2 linked regions of the Homo sapiens genome follow. The protein of the gene in region 2 purifies or fractionates together with the protein of the main gene of each other region. This does not show direct contact. Each region holds a gene or a part of one and is shown on either strand. Other genes may lie near its edges.

Region 1 (4,827 bases), on a different chromosome or scaffold from region 2:
CCCAGCAGCTGGGACTAGAGGCGCACGCAGCAACGCCTGCTAATTTTTTTGTATTTTTAGTAGAGACGGGGTTTCACTGTGTTAGCCAGGATGGTCTCGATCTCCCGACTTCGCGATCCGCCCGCCTCGGCCTCCCAAAGTGCTGGGATTACAGGCGTGAGCCACTGCGCCTGGCCCAGACTGGAATTTTTTAAAGCCCTAATTTAGCATTAGAAGCTTGCATATCTCAGGCAATGGTAAAAGAATTAAAAGAAAATTAGTCAATACTGAATGATAAATCAGGCCATATGCTGACATAAAAATCTATCATGTAAATTGAGACAATATTTTATACTTTTCTTCTAGTGGGAACCAAATGAAAACATATTATTAATTTTCTAGTTGCCAAATAAAAGACGAATTTTGAATGCTTCCTAAAGAATTCTTTAAATTTTGTAACCCAAATATCTTTACTATGAAAAATGCTCTTTGCTTAATTTACTTTTCAGGAGTCACTCTAGTCTACTGTTTCTGATGTGAAATATTTTATTCTGATGACTGAATTCTTTATATAACTAGAAGGAGAAATAATTGTTTACATATAGTTCAACATATTTTAAAATTAAATGTAGTTTTGATTCCGAAACTTGTGGTCAAACTAATTCTTCTACTTGTATTCACACATGTTGATATTTGGCCTGATAAGACAAAATCATAGAAGTGTAAGAATTAGGAGGCCAGGTGTGGTGGCTCATGCCTGTAATCTCAACACTTTGAGAGGCGGAGGCGGAAGGATCTCTTGAGCCCAGGAGTTCAAGCACAGCCTGGGCAACATGGTAAAACTCTGTCTCTACGAAAAATACAAAAACTAGCCAAGAGTGATGACATGTGCTTTTAATTCCAGCTACTTGGGAGGCTGAAGTGGGAGGATCACTTGAGTCCTGAGAGGTTGAGTCTGCAGTGAGATATGATCACACCATTGCACTCCAGCCTGGGTGACAGAGTAAAACTCTGTCTTTAAAGAAAAAAAAAAAGAATTAGAGTGGAAAGGGGCTCTAGTGATTACTAGCCTTCCCACAAGATTCCTATGATTTTTGTTTGTTTGTTTGGTTTTTACTTCTGGACTCCACTTGCTATGTAGTATGTCTTCCAATTTAAAAATATATATTCAAAGACATATAACTATCAACGAAACTTGTTCAGTAAGAGATAACCAATATATACAGACTTGGTATATTTTCAGTCAAAAGTAAAGAAATGGGATGTTTTAGTTAGTTTTGTCACTATAGACAAATACATAGTTTTTATCGGGACTTTTGTAAAATTGAAAATAACTTACAAGTACTATTCCCTTATCTATTAACCTAAGGATCAGGAGACCCTTGGTTGGGAATGATCCAACTAGTCCAACCTTCTAATTTTGCATATAAGATGGCTCTGAATTTAGAGGTTTGATTAATCATGAAAGGGGGAAAATGATTTTTCTCACATACATTATATTGACCAATGAGGTGATTCTAGAAAAACTATGCTCTGTGATCCAAGTAACCTGGCAAGGATAAACAATTTAAATCCAATGAAACACAACCTGAAGTGAACTATTACCACCAATGATAAAAATAAGAAATGTTTCACATTTTAATTTTCTTTAAACCTTTTTTTATTTAGAGATTTTTCTGGTAAGGAGATATACCATAGGAAAGCAATTTCACTGGCAGTGAGGTATGTATATACTCTACCAAAATACTCCTTATTTTAACTGTTTTTAACTTTATTTACATACGAAGCAAAGAATCAATGCATATCCTTGGTTCAACTATAGTATTAGCCATACTACATGAAATAAAATGGTGCTTGCATACAAAAACTTGTTGTTTGTAAAGGAATCTGATTTCAGATTAAAATACCTAATTGTTTTTGGAAAAAATTTTTAAAAAGAATCACAATTTATCATGACCAAGACACCTGCACCATATTTTCCATTCCTCACAGCACATTTATTTCAGTAATTCTGTTATGTCGGTTCTTAGCATGAGCATAGTGTTACACGATTTTCGTACATATAATCACATCCAAAACAAGTTCTAAAATTTAAATTGTAAACATTCTCATATGTAGAAATATTTTAATTGGTGTATTAAGTTTTGCTAACTGATCAAATTTGGAAGATAATATAAATGAGAACGTCTATTCTAAACTGTGTAGTGAGCATTGTTTATTAATTACATTTCTACAATGTTAAATAAAGTAAGAGGCAAACCTGTCCTGTAAGCATGTCAAATTTTAGGTAAAACATTAAAAAGAAACAAACCTGTTAACAAAAGAATGTCTTGCAATAAAGAACATTAGATTTTTAAAATCTATTATGATACAAAAATGTAAAGGGTAAATAGCATCTTTGTTGACAAAGTAGGAGGTAGCATGGATGCACCACTTTATTGTCTGAGAAATGCAACTGGAGTAAAGAATATTTCCTTACCACAAATAATTTCCAGAACTATGTACATATTTCTTTTAGAAATACTTGTTTAAACAAATCTCCCTCCACTTTTTAGTATAAAAAAAACCGTTCCATGTGATTTTAAAAAAAACACTTACACATCTAGATAGAATAGTACTCTGCCCTATTTGAGTGAACAGTCTCAAACTATGAAGTACATGATATTTAATGCCCTAATTTGAGTAAATTTAGTCAGCGGTTCTTGGTATTATACAAAACACTAAATACATACAAACAAAATATAATATCTTATTTTTCTATGCAAGTCTTGTGGGGAATAAACAGAGCCTTGATTCTGGTAACACTGCAAAAAACATAATTGTCCAATAAGTCTGTCTATAAGTATCCATGTGCAACAGTTTATTAATGGCTGCTTACATGTACTGCTCTTTTACTGAGTGAACACAGTTAACCAACAAAACTTCATAAACCTTAAAAACACATCTTCCACCCTATATAAAATATATAGACTACTTACTGTTTTAAGTATTCAATTTGCTCTGATGTCACTGTAATTCACTTTCCCCCCATTTTCCTGCTTTAGTATTTATAAACAGATAATTTAATGTGGCTTAAAAAAAAAGAATTTCAAATTTACATCCAATTCAAACTGGCTATTTAAAAGGTTTCCTGGTTCTATGAAGCTGCTTCGGCCATTAGTAGAGAAAATGAAGTTTCTGTAATGGAGGCAGGCTTTTTAAGTAGTGACGTGACTTCCACCATGCCAGCTCCAGTCCGTGGAAGATTAGCGTTTACAATATGTCGTTGTAAGTGCTTAATCCAGTCTTCCTGAACAGACAAGGGTCCTCGAAAGACTAGGCCACAAAACCTACAGAAAGATAACAATTCTCTTAACATGACCAATTCTCTTTCTTTAAAACTAATTCACACAAAATCCTAAAACATAAGGAATAAACTTTATCATATTTTAAAGACAGCAATTGATAAAGTTTCTAAAGTCAAATGATTTAATAAAACATCAAAACTCCCAATTCATATGTTTATTAACAGCTATAATAAACTCCAGTAATCTTTGTATAGGTGGGAGCATTATTATTTTAAAATTAACATCTACACATCTTAATTCACTTGAAACAACAACTATTACTCCAAAATATGTCATTCTTTAGAAAAGACCCTTCCCCAGTTTAGCATTCCTTAAATGGCATTGTGTCTATGTTTCTTCATGTGTGTTGTGTGTGAGTGTGAGTACGGAAGAAGGCGTGACTATGAGGGGAGAGAAAATGTGTTCCCAATAAGCGAGAACTCAAGACAACAAAACATCAAACCAAACAAAATTAAACCATACAAACCAAATAAACACAAGGAAAGCCAGTTTTTTTTTCTTTTTTCTGAGACAGAGTCTTGCTCTGTCGCTCAGGCTGGAGTGCAGTGGCACGATCTCGGCCCACTGCAACCTCTGCCTCCTGGGCTCAAGCAATTCTCCTGCCTCAGCCTCCCAAGTAGCTGGGATTACAGGCACCCGCTACAAAGCCTGGCTAATTTTGGTATTTTTAGTAGACACGAGGTTTCATCATGTTGGCCAGGCTGCTCTTGAACTCCTGGCCTCAAGTGATCCACCCATCTTGGCCACCCAAAGTGCTGGAATTACAGGCATGAGCCACCACACCTGGCCAAGCTACTTTAATAAATCACAGTATAATAGATTTACATTACTATTGGCTAATGTAAAAAACTTGATTCATTAGTTGTTGAAGTACGGATATTGTGAGCTGAATTAAGATTTTAAGCCTATCTCCAAAAGTTCATTTATAACTTGATTGTTGAGAATGCACTCTGCCACAAATTAAAAATCCCAAATGAAATAGCTAATATGTTTCAAAGCAAAGTATGAAGAAACTGATCAGATTTGGCAATATAGGCATATACCTGCATCGGAGAATGTAAACCTCGTCAGCACCATGAGGTAATGTTAGCATTTTCTTCTTGCTTCCAGATCTTGACCTTGATTTCTTTTGCTTACAATCTAAGGCTAAAAAGGGGAAGAGAAAGACTTAACATTCCTTATATATTTCAAAATATACATACACACATATTTTTCTAGAGAGGTCAGACAGACCATCTAAATCAGTTAGAAAAAGTCCGCATTCATTTCCCTATTCCCTGAAGCATGCATTCAACTTGCTGATTCTGTAATAGCAGTAATATTATCTGTACTGTACAGCGGTATTATCTGTACTGAAGAATACTATCTGTATTCTTCCTATACTGCCTTTTCAAATAATGCTTTACCACACCAAACTAGAACTGAGAAAATGTAACTAAATAACTTGAAAGTACTAAATTGGTCAATTATTACAATAATGGTAATCTTTACTTTTATAATC
Region 2 (5,211 bases):
GAAAGGAGGAAGAAATCCTTAGGCTTTAGTGGGGCTCAATTTGACAAATACTAAAATGTACATCTAGGCTTTTTTTTTTTTTTTCCTGGAACCGCAATATATATTTCCACAGAATTACAGTTTTTGTGCATTTCTGCACACCATGTAATCACATTTTTTAAGAGAAGAAAACTTTTGACCAATTTTCAAAAGAAAGCAAAGTTTTTTTTTTTTTTTTTTTTTTTTTTTTTTGAGACGGAGTCTCGCTCTGTCGCCCAGGCTGGAGTGCAGTGGCGCGATCTCGACTCACTGCAAGCTCCGCCTCCCGGGTTCACGCCATTCTCCTGCCTCAGCCTCCCGTGTAGCTGGGACTACAGGCGCCCGCCACCACGCCCGGCTAATTTTTTGTATTTTTAGTAGAGACGGGGTTTCACCGTGTTAGCCAAGATGGTCTCGATCTCCTGACCTCGTGATCCGCCCGCCTCGGCCTCCCAAAGTGCTGGGATTACAGGCGTGAGCCACCGCGCCCGGCCGCAAAGTTTTTAATTCACAAAGATTACTGCTTGTTGAATAGAATATAATGAAACAAAATATTAAGATGCAGATAGTGGGGATAAAATAAGCCCACTCCTGGGTGGGCGCCTGGTTCCTGCACAGCTGCCTCATGGTGTCCCTCAGCCCAATTTGTGCCTCAGCAACATGGCAGATATCACATGGCTTAGACCTTTTGTCATTAATGCATTATGACTGTTAAAACAACTGTCATGGACCTCTGTACTTTGTAATAAAAACTTTCTTAAAATTTTCAGGGAAAAGCAGTTATCTCAATTAACAAGATTTTTCAGTATCTAAGACTTAAAATGATAATGTAACTGTCCAATGCAGTTTAATCACCTTTTTATCTTAGAAGACATTTTATGATCTAATGTTACCCTTGGGCATGTGGCTATATATTATTCCAGAAGAAAAAAAAAATTACTGAGACTTTACTTCAAAATTTGTTAGACACACTTAACTGTGTTTTTTATCTTTTATTTTTTACTTTTATTTTTTTTTTTTTTGACATGGAGTCTCACTCTTTTGCCCAGGCTGGAGTGCAGTGGCACAGTCTTGGCTCACTGCAACCTCCTCCTCCTGGGTTCAGGCGATTCTCCTGCCTCAGCCTCCCAAGTAGCTGGGATTACAGGTGCCTGCCACCACACCCGGCTAATTTTTTGTATTTTTAGTAGACAGGGTTTCGCCATATTGGCCAGGCTGGTCTTGAACTCCTGGCCCCAAGTGATTCACCCACCTCTGCCTCCCAAAGTGCTGGGATTACAGGCGTGACCCACCGCACCCAGCCGGAACTGCCTTTTTAAAAAGAAACTTAAACGTGGCATTGCCTTACTTTAAGGGAGGAAAACATAGTCATTGGAGTGAAAAGACAAGATACCATGGTGCCTTGTTGCCAAGGCATCGTGGCCAACAACAGTCTGAGGGATAGATTAGAATAGTTGCTCTTAGGTGGCTTGAGTGCCTGCTACCTAATCCAGTCATGGGTGAGTCTAAATAAAATCAGCATTCTCTAGAAGAGAGCTGTCCAATAGAAATGTAATGCAAGCTGCAGATGCCATTCAACATCTACTAACCACATTGAACAAAGTAAAAAGAAACAGCTGAAATTGCTTTCAAGAATGTATTTGATCCAATATATCCAAAATATTATTTCAACCTGTAATAGTTTTAAGTTACTTAGTGTTCTTTTTTTTGTATGATACAAAGTCTTCAAAATTCAGTGTGGGTTTTTTTTTTTTGCTTTTTTTTTTGTTTGTTTGTTTTGTTTGTTTGAGACTGAGTCTCGCACTCTGTCGCCCACGCTGGAGTGCAGTGGTGCAATCTTGGCTCACTGCAACCTCTGCCTCCCAGTTTCAAGCGATTCTCATGCCTCACCCTCCCTAGTACTGGCATTACAGGCGTGCACCACCACACCCAGCTAATTTTTGTGTTTTTAGTAAAGATGGGGTTTTCCCATGTTGCCCAGGCTGGTCTCGAACTCCTGGGCTCAAGCGATCCACCCACCTTGGCCTCCCAAAATGCTGGGATTACAGGCATGAGCCACCGTGCCCAGCCTCAGTGTGTATTATATTTTAAGCATATCTCAATTCAGATTGGCCACATTTCAAGTTTTCAGTAGCTGTATGTGGCTCGTAATAACCGTATTGGATAGTTCATCTCTAGAACATCTAGAGAATGTGTGCCCATGATGTTGAGAAATGAGTTCCCTTGTGTCTGGTGTTTGATATTAAGTTATGGACGTTAAGAATGCCTGAATCTATTGCTGGCCAAGTAAGCCACTAACCTAGGTCATAAAGAGTTAGCTTTGGGACCATTTATTTCCATGATCAAAATAAATACATCTGGGTTTAACCTGAATCACCATTTAGTAACATAGTCATCAGTTTCAGTACCTTTGTCTTTTTCCAGGTAAAACTCTTTAGCCTCTTATCAAACATGTTATGCCACATCTAAATTCCATATTTTATGTAATATAAGGAAAAATAGTTTTATTTGTATGATTTATACTTCATGTGTTAGGAACCTGTGACTACATGTTCTGAACTGTTAGTAAGAAAAATGGTATTGGATACCTTACTCTTTAAGATTTTTAATTATTTTTGGTAAAACTGGGAAATAGCCGTCTGATTTGCATTTTATTTTCTTTTGTATTTTAAGGATATGGAATATTATCTTGTAAAATGGAAAGGATGGCCAGATTCTACAAATACTTGGGAACCTTTGCAAAATCTGAAGTGCCCGTTACTGCTTCAGCAATTCTCTAATGACAAGCATAATTATTTATCTCAGGTAAAGAAAGGCAAAGCAATAACTCCAAAAGACAATAACAAAACTTTGAAACCTGCCATTGCTGAGTACATTGTGAAGAAGGCTAAACAAAGGATAGCTCTGCAGAGATGGCAAGATGAACTCAACAGAAGAAAGAATCATAAAGGAATGATATTTGTTGAAAATACTGTTGATTTAGAGGGCCCACCTTCAGACTTCTATTACATTAACGAATACAAACCAGCTCCTGGAATCAGCTTAGTCAATGAAGCTACCTTTGGTTGTTCATGCACAGATTGCTTCTTTCAAAAATGTTGTCCTGCTGAAGCTGGAGTTCTTTTGGCTTATAATAAAAACCAACAAATTAAAATCCCACCTGGTACTCCCATCTATGAATGCAACTCAAGGTGTCAGTGTGGTCCTGATTGTCCCAATAGGATTGTACAAAAAGGCACACAGTATTCGCTTTGCATCTTTCGAACTAGCAATGGACGTGGCTGGGGTGTAAAGACCCTTGTGAAGATTAAAAGAATGAGTTTTGTCATGGAATATGTTGGAGAGGTATGTTTCATTTGCCACGTAGTAAATGATGGACATGCAAGGTTTATACTTTTGGAAAATTACCTTTTTATCTCTTTAAGAGATACTTGGTACATTTTGATATTTTCATTTGCAGATATGTAGAAATTTATTCAGATTTAGGAGAAGAGTTCACTGGCATATTTAGAAATAAAAAACTTTTATATGAATAAAAAATATACGTTAAAACAAATTGATATAGTCATCTTTCAACAAATACACATTCCTACTAGTCAAACCTAGGATTTGTAAAATTTAAAATATGACAACTGTTTTTACCCAAAAGTCCTAAGAAGAAACTCAGATGTAACACATGCTGCTTTGAAACTTGAAAGTTTTAATTTACTTCATCTATTTGACCAAATATGATTAAATGTAGTTGGCAGAACTCTATTTTGGATCAACATGAAAGATACTATATTTATGAGTTTTGTAAAATATACACAAGCATTTATTGCATCCATAATCTGTAACTTACTTTTGAACTGTGAAGACCATTCTCAAAACTACCATACAAATACTAGCAAATTTATTTGTATACAAATCATATATATGTATATATATATATAAATGTAAAAAGTATTTGCCGTGTGTCACATACTATTCTAAGCACTTGATGTATTAATTCACTAATCCTCTCCAAAACTCAGTGAGGTAGTACTGTTTCTTTTTTTTTTTTTTTTTTTTTTTTTTTTGAGAAGTAGTACTGTTATGTCCATTATTGTAGAGAAATTGAGTACCTTGCCCAAGGTCACACAGGTCACATAGTAATAAGAACCGAGATTCAAAGCTCTAAAATCAGTAGTCTTCACCATGGCACCACACTGCTTCAAACTGAAGGGTAGGTTGAGCTGTGACTAGAAAGACACAAGCATGGCTACATATCTGGAGTTGTCAACTCTGGATTTTTTAGTTGGAATTGGGTCACCTATAATTATCTGTATTCATCTATAATTCTGAAACTAAATTAGATGGCTGTTTTGATTCTTACACTTTTAGACAGTGGTAGATTATTATAAATTATTCAGTATACAAGATCTTGTATAATCAAATTACTCTTTTTGTTAACCAAAATTTTTTAAGTTGCATTCTTAATGAGTGCAGCAGCCAAATTTGGTTGGTAACATAAAGTACTTTAGACACTTTTGGTTTCTTAAGCCGAGCGTGTCATAAAACTTGTGTTCTTAAGAGCAGAACTGTAGATGACGATCTTAGACTTACAGAATTGCATGAAAATAACATATTCTACAAAAACAAAACCTTCCATTCCAAAGTTAACATAGCTTCTCCCCTGTATTTTTAACAATTTTCCATTTGTAACTGCATATATATAAGTTATAGGAAAAATGTGCCTGGATCATATTTAGAGCATATACTTGCAGATTTAGTCCTTAACATTCAGTTGTGTCCTGTAGAGAGCTATAGTTGTATAGCTTTTTGAACATCCTAATTATAATGAAAGTAATGCAGTGTTCCAATGTACTGCTCAAATCCTGTTTAAAAAGTCATAAATCAACCAGTTACAGTTAATCCCAGCACTTGGGGAGGTCAAGGCTGGAGGCTCACTTGAGCCCAGGAGTTCCAGACCAGTGTGGGCAACATAGTGAGACCCCACATCTCTATAAAAACTAAATCATTAGCTGGGCATGGCGGTATGCACCTGTGATCCAGCTAGTCAGGAGGCTGAGGCAGGAAGATCGCTTGATCCCAGGAGTTAAAGGATACAGGGAGTCATGATGGCACCACCGCATTCTAGCCTGAGTGACAGAGTGAGACCCTGTTTAAAAAAAAAAGGTCATCAGTCTTTTGCATTATCATTTTTCTTCCCCT

Evidence for each region.
Region 1: the proteins of SUV39H2 (region 2) and ZNF644 purify together in Homo sapiens (affinity purification with mass spectrometry; 3 studies listed by BioGRID and IntAct, with this or other methods). This does not show direct contact.

Annotation. Positions count from the first base shown.
Region 1 is NC_000001.11:90,913,683-90,918,509, forward strand, and holds the end of ZNF644 (zinc finger protein 644), read right to left. Parts: intron 4,473-4,827; coding exon 4,370-4,472; intron 3,309-4,369; coding exon 3,116-3,308; 3' UTR 1,622-3,115; downstream 1-1,621.
Region 2 is NC_000010.11:14,894,155-14,899,365, forward strand, and holds part of SUV39H2 (histone-lysine N-methyltransferase SUV39H2), read left to right. Parts: intron 1-2,691; coding exon 2,692-3,363; exon of another isoform or gene 3,364-5,095; coding exon of another isoform or gene 5,096-5,158; intron 5,159-5,211. UniProt on the Homo sapiens protein: Histone methyltransferase that specifically trimethylates 'Lys-9' of histone H3 using monomethylated H3 'Lys-9' as substrate.